Regions from separate parts of the Homo sapiens genome. Here region 2 is linked to region 1. Evidence: fine-mapped expression QTL. A gene starts in region 1. The other region holds a variant in brackets. All regions are shown on one strand. Distances are between the middles of the regions.

Evidence for each region. PIP is the estimated chance that this variant, and not a neighbour inherited with it, causes the effect.
Region 2: its variant is fine-mapped to the expression of RNF7 in whole blood (INTERVAL, PIP above 0.99).

The regions. Positions count from the first base shown.
Region 1 is chr3:141,736,614-141,739,397 of GRCh38, reverse strand. It overlaps RNF7 (ring finger protein 7), which reads right to left and starts at 1,100. Exons shown (of 3, transcript NM_014245.5): 1 at 882-1,100. The coding sequence starts at 1,056. RefSeq lists enhancers at 1-627, 828-1,067, 628-1,307, 1,418-1,467, 1,508-1,557 and silencers at 628-807, 1,068-1,327.
Region 2 is chr3:141,692,885-141,695,668 of GRCh38, reverse strand. It overlaps the pseudogene LRRC78P. Among named protein-coding and RNA genes, the nearest start is that of RNF7, 44 kb to the left of the region's middle. The variant G/A (reference allele first, on the strand shown) is at 1,190.

The DNA.
Region 1 (2,784 bases):
TAAGCTGTTCTGAAAAGTTTCACTTGGTCTAATATTTTAACTCAAAATATCACAGAAAGAAGACATATTTGTAAGAGGGTTCTCCACAAAGGCATGACTCAGAGCAGCACAGTATCTTCTCCAGGAAATGGCATCCAATATGGAGAGGGGGGTGTGATGGAGGTGAAGTTTTACGTTTCTGAAAAAAGGGCTTACAATTCTTCAGCTTCCATGAAACTTAGATATTCTTGAACCACACTGTTCCCTTCAAGCCACGCTAGTGCTATCTGACCCGTCTTAAATCAATCCAGATTTAAAAGCCATTCGAAGAGCGGCGGTAAGCTAATCCGGAAATGCAATGGCTATGAACACTTTCCTGCGTCCCTCGAGGAGAACTAAGGGTGTCGTTTTGTGGAAGATGACTCTGGAGCATCACTTTGGTGGTGACCAAGACTATTAAAGTTCACTGCTGAATCACGGCCTTTACCCTGACCACCTTGTGTTGAGCTTTTAGAGGTGGGGCTGGGGCTGGACACACAAACCGAAGTGTTTCCTGCTAGTTCCCAACAATCACCCGGTTTTACTTTCTTGGTCACACCCATCACTACCTGAAATTACCTTGTTTAACTCCGTTTATTGCCCGTCTCTCTCCCTAGAACACCAACCACCCGGCGCAGGGCGCCTGTTGCACAACCCCGCAGCCCCAGGCGGCGGCCGCAGCCCTCAGGAGCCGCAGCAGGAGCGTGGCTCCGCGTTCCTCCGGCGCCGGGGCAGGGCGACCTCCACCCACTCTCCCAGGCAGGGCACTTTCCGAGGCTTCTGACGGACGCCCGTCCCTTCCCAACCCCGAGGTCGGCTCCCGGAGGCCGCAGGGCGGCCCTGGACTCGCGTGCAGCGCTTACCCATCACCTGGACCCTGCAGATGGCGCACGTATCGCACTCCACGTCCCAGCTCCACATGGCCACCGCGTTCCACTTCTTGAGGGAGAACATCTTGTCGCCTCCCGACTTGGAGCCTGAGCTCCCGGAGTGAGAGGCCAGGGCGCAGGTTTCCTCTCCGTCTTCCACGTCGGCCATGGCGGCGCCGCGGAGCCGACGGCGGAGACGTTGGCTTGGGGAAGGCGGAAGGCTAGGGCGGCTCTGTGGAGCCGCCCGACGGGCCACAGCGCCGCCCGCAGGCCGCCAGCCACCGTGGTGCCTAGACCCCGGCTGCCCACGATTGGCTGGCGCGGCACAGTGACGTCACCTGACGCCAGCGCCAGGGGGGCGGGCAGGCCCCGCCCTCGCCGTCCTAGGCCAACTGAGAGGGCTCGGGCCCTTATGGGGCGACGCCGCTGAATCTGCCTGCTGCGCTGCGGGGTGTTACGTCTGAGCAGGCGCACAGATTGTGCAGGGATATGTGTCCTGCTTTACGGCTTCATTAAACCTACTGCTCTCAGAAATTATCTTGTTAATTTATTCGTTTGTCTCTTCCCTCCCAAATGTAAAACTCTATCAGAGCAGGAAACATGTTGCTATCACCACATTATCCTCCGTATCTGCAAAATGCCTGGCCACAGGAGGCACAATTATTTGTTGAGTGAATAAATGATCTTAAAGATCTAGAAATCTGGTTCAGTGATTCTCAAAACTTTTTGGTCCCAGGACTCCTTTTCACTTAAAAATTATTAGGACCTTAAAGAACTTTTATTTATGTAGGAAATGTGTAAATATATATATATATACACACACACATATTATGTATGAATATATATACACATATACAATGAATATATGTATATTCATATATACATACATTTCCTGTATATGTATACACACATATGTAGAGATTAATGTTTGCTTTTGAAGAAATTAAAACATTTTAAAATGTATTCATTAAAAATCACAGTAGTAACCTCATTACAGGTTATCATTAGAGGGATGACTTCACATACCATGTAGTTGCTAGAAACTCCGGTGTACACTCGTAGAATGAGAGTGAAAAGAGAGAAATAGCTCTAAATATTGTTAGGCAACTAGTTTGCCCTCTTTTGACCGCTAAAAGAGGTCGGGATCCCAGGAGTCCCGGTGTGTGGCGACACAACCCACACTTATTTTTCAGGCCCCGCTCCCTCAGCTGCACAGTCTCCATTCCTTCTGCTCAGTACATTTGAGCTAGTTTAACTTCCTCTTTTTATATGTAGGACTAATGAGGTCTGAAGAAGTGAAATGACAAAGATCACATCGTTATTATAGTAGTGCTTCTACGGCTAGCCCACCATCACATGTGTTTCCAAGAAAGCCGGTATCTCCATTGAAAAGAAAACAGAAGCACAGCCAGCCTAAGGAGATGCCTGACCCCACCATCACCTAGTGGTGGACAGCTACTCTGTCAAGTTTGGATTCTGAGCCTCTCCCCATCCCCTCATTTCCTGATACCTGGGCAAAAGCTAACCAGACTAATGGAGCCTGGCAGGGGAAACAAGAATGCATTAATATACAGAAACATAAATATGGACACAGGGTCACATTTGGTTAGATGCAAATGCGTATTTGTTGAGTGGTGTGTTAAGGGCTGTGAGGGTACAGGATGCAGTGAGGGAAAGCCTCATGAGAGAGGTAGAGGATGCAGTGAGGGAAAGCCTCATGAGAGAGTAGAGGATGCAGTGAGGGAAAGCCTCATGAGAGAGGTAGAGGATGCAGTGAGGGAAAGCCTCATGAGAGAGGTGAAGTTTGAACTGGGGGAACATGGGAGGTCTTCAGGGCCAGTGGAGAGAGCAAACCTCTCTGAGCTGTTGGCCAGAGCAGGGCACAATGGTGGCAGCA
Region 2 (2,784 bases), 44 kb after region 1:
ATTTTCTTCTACAATACCACTTGACCCCAATACAAACTTGACAATGACTCCAAATAGCTAGAAAATGGCACTTTCAATTTCTCCATCCTACAAGATCTAGATAATTCTTGTCGTAAAATGGGCAAATGGTCTGAAGTGCCTGATGTCCAGGCATTCTTTTATACGTCGGCTCCTCCCTAGTCTCTGTTGCCAATGCGACTCATCCCAAATCTTCCTTCTTTCCCTCCCTCCTGTCCCTTCAGTCCCAACCCCAAGCATTGCTGAGTCTTTTCAATTTTCCTTTTCTACGGACCCATCTGACCTCTTCCCTCCTCCCCAGACTGCTCCTTGCCAGGCCGAGCCAGGTCCCAATTCTTCCTCAGCCTCCACTCCCTGACCCTATAATCCTTTTATCACCTCCCCTCCTCACACCCTGTCTGGCTTACAGTTTCATTCCATGACTAGCCCTCCCCGACCTGCCCAACAATTTCCTCTTAAAGAGGTAGCTGGAGCTGAAGGCATAGTCAAGGTTAGTGCTCCTTCTTCTTTATCCGACCTCTCCCAAATCAGTTAACATTTAGGCTCTTTTTCATCAAATATAAAAACCCAGCCCAGTTCATGGCCCATTTGGCAACAGCCCTCGGACCCTTTACCGCCCTAGACCCAGAAGGGCCAAAAGGCTGTCTTATTCTCAATATACATTGTATTACCCAATCTGCTTTTGACATTAGAAAAAGCTCTAAAAATTAGATTCCAGCCCTCAAACCCCATAACAGGACTTAATTAACCTCGCTTTCAAGGTGGACAATAATAGAGAAGAGTTGCAATTACTTGCCTCCGCTGTGAGAGAAACCCCAGCCACATCTCCAGCACAGAAGAACTTCAAAATGCCTGAACTGCAGCGGCCAGGCATTCCTCCAGGACCTCCTCCCCCAGGATCTTGCTTCAAGTGCTGGAAATCTGGCCACTGGGCCAAGGAATGCCCACAGCCTGGGATTCCTCCTAAGCCATGTCCCATCTGTGTGGGACCCCACTGGAAATCAGACTGTCCAACTCACCTGGCAGCCACTCCCAGAGCCCCTGGAACTCTGGCCCAAAGCTCTCTGACTAACTCCTTCCCAGATCTTCTAGGCTTAGTGGCTGAAGACTGATGCTGCCTGATTACCTAAAAATCCTCCTGGACCATCATGGATAGCTCTTACAGTGGAGG[G/A]TAAGTCCGTCCCCTTCTTAATTAATACAGAGGCTACCCACTCCACATTACCTTCTTTTCAAGGGCCTGTTTCTCTTGCCTCCATAACTGTTGTGGGTACTGACGGCCGGGCTTCTAAGCCTCTTAAAACTCCCCAACTCTGATGCCAACTTGGACAGCATTCTTTTATGCACTTCTTTTTAATTATCCCCACCTGCCCAGCTCCCTTATCAGGTTGAGACATTTTACCTAAATTATCTGCTTCCCTCACTATTCCTGGGCTACAGCCACACCTCATTGCTCCCCTTTTCCCCAGTTCAAAGCCTCCTTCGCAGCCTCCCCTTGTGTCTCCCTAGCTTAATCCACAAATATAAGATACCTCTACACCTACCTTGATGACCAATCATGCACCCCTTATCATCCCATTAAAACCTAATCACCCTTACCCCACTCAACGCCAATATCCCATCCCACAGCAGGCTTTAAAAAGGTTAAAGCCTGTTATCACTTGCCTGCTACAGCATGGGTTTCTAAAGCCTATAAACTCTCCTTACAATTCCCCCATTTTACCTGTCCAAAAACTGGACAAGTCTTACAGGTTAGTTCAGGATCTGCACCTTATCAACCAAATTGTCTTGCCTATCCACTCCATGGTGCCAAACCCATATACTCTCCTATCCTCAATACCTCCCCTCCATAACCCATTATTTTGTTTTGAATCTCAAACATGCTTTCTTTACTGTTCCTTTGCACCCTTCATCCCAGCCTCTCTTCACTTTCACTTGGACTGACCCTGACACCCATCAGCCTCAGCAACTTACCTGGGCTGTACTGCTGCAAGGTTTCAGGGACAGCCCCCATTACTTCAGTCAAGCCCAAATTTCTTCCTCATCCATTACCTATCTTGGCATAATTCTTCATAAAAACACAGGTTCTCTCCCTGCTGATCATGTCTGGCTAATCTTCCAAACCCCAACTCCTTCTACAAAACAACTCCTTTCCTTCCTACACATGGTTAGGTACTTTCACCTTTGGATACCTGGTTTTGCCTTCCTAACTAAATGATTCATTCTCCCCATTTCCCCATATTTCCCTCTTTTCTGTTCCCCACCCAGACCACACTTGGTTTATTGATGATAGTTCTTCCAGGCCCATTCGCCACTCACCAGCAAAGGCAGGCTATGCTATAGTATCTTCCACATCTATCCTTGAGGCTACTGCTCTGCCCCGCTCCACTACCTCTCAGCAAGCCGAACTCATTGCCTTAACTCAGGCCCTCACTCTTGCAAAGGGACTATGTGTCAATATTTACACTGACTCTAAATATGCCTTCCATATCCTGCACCACCATGCTGTTATATGGGCAGAAAGAAATTTCCTCACTACACAAGGGTCCTTCATCATTAATGCCTCCTTAATAAAAACTCTTCTTAAAGCTGCTCTACTTGCAAGGAAGCTAGGGTCATTCATGCAAGGGCCATCAAAAGGCATCAGATCCCATTGCTCAAGGCAACGCTTATGCTAATAAGGTAACTAAAGAAGCAGCTAGCCTTCCAACTTCTGTCCCTCAAGATCAATTTTTCTCCTCATCTTTTCACTTTACATTTCCAGTTTTG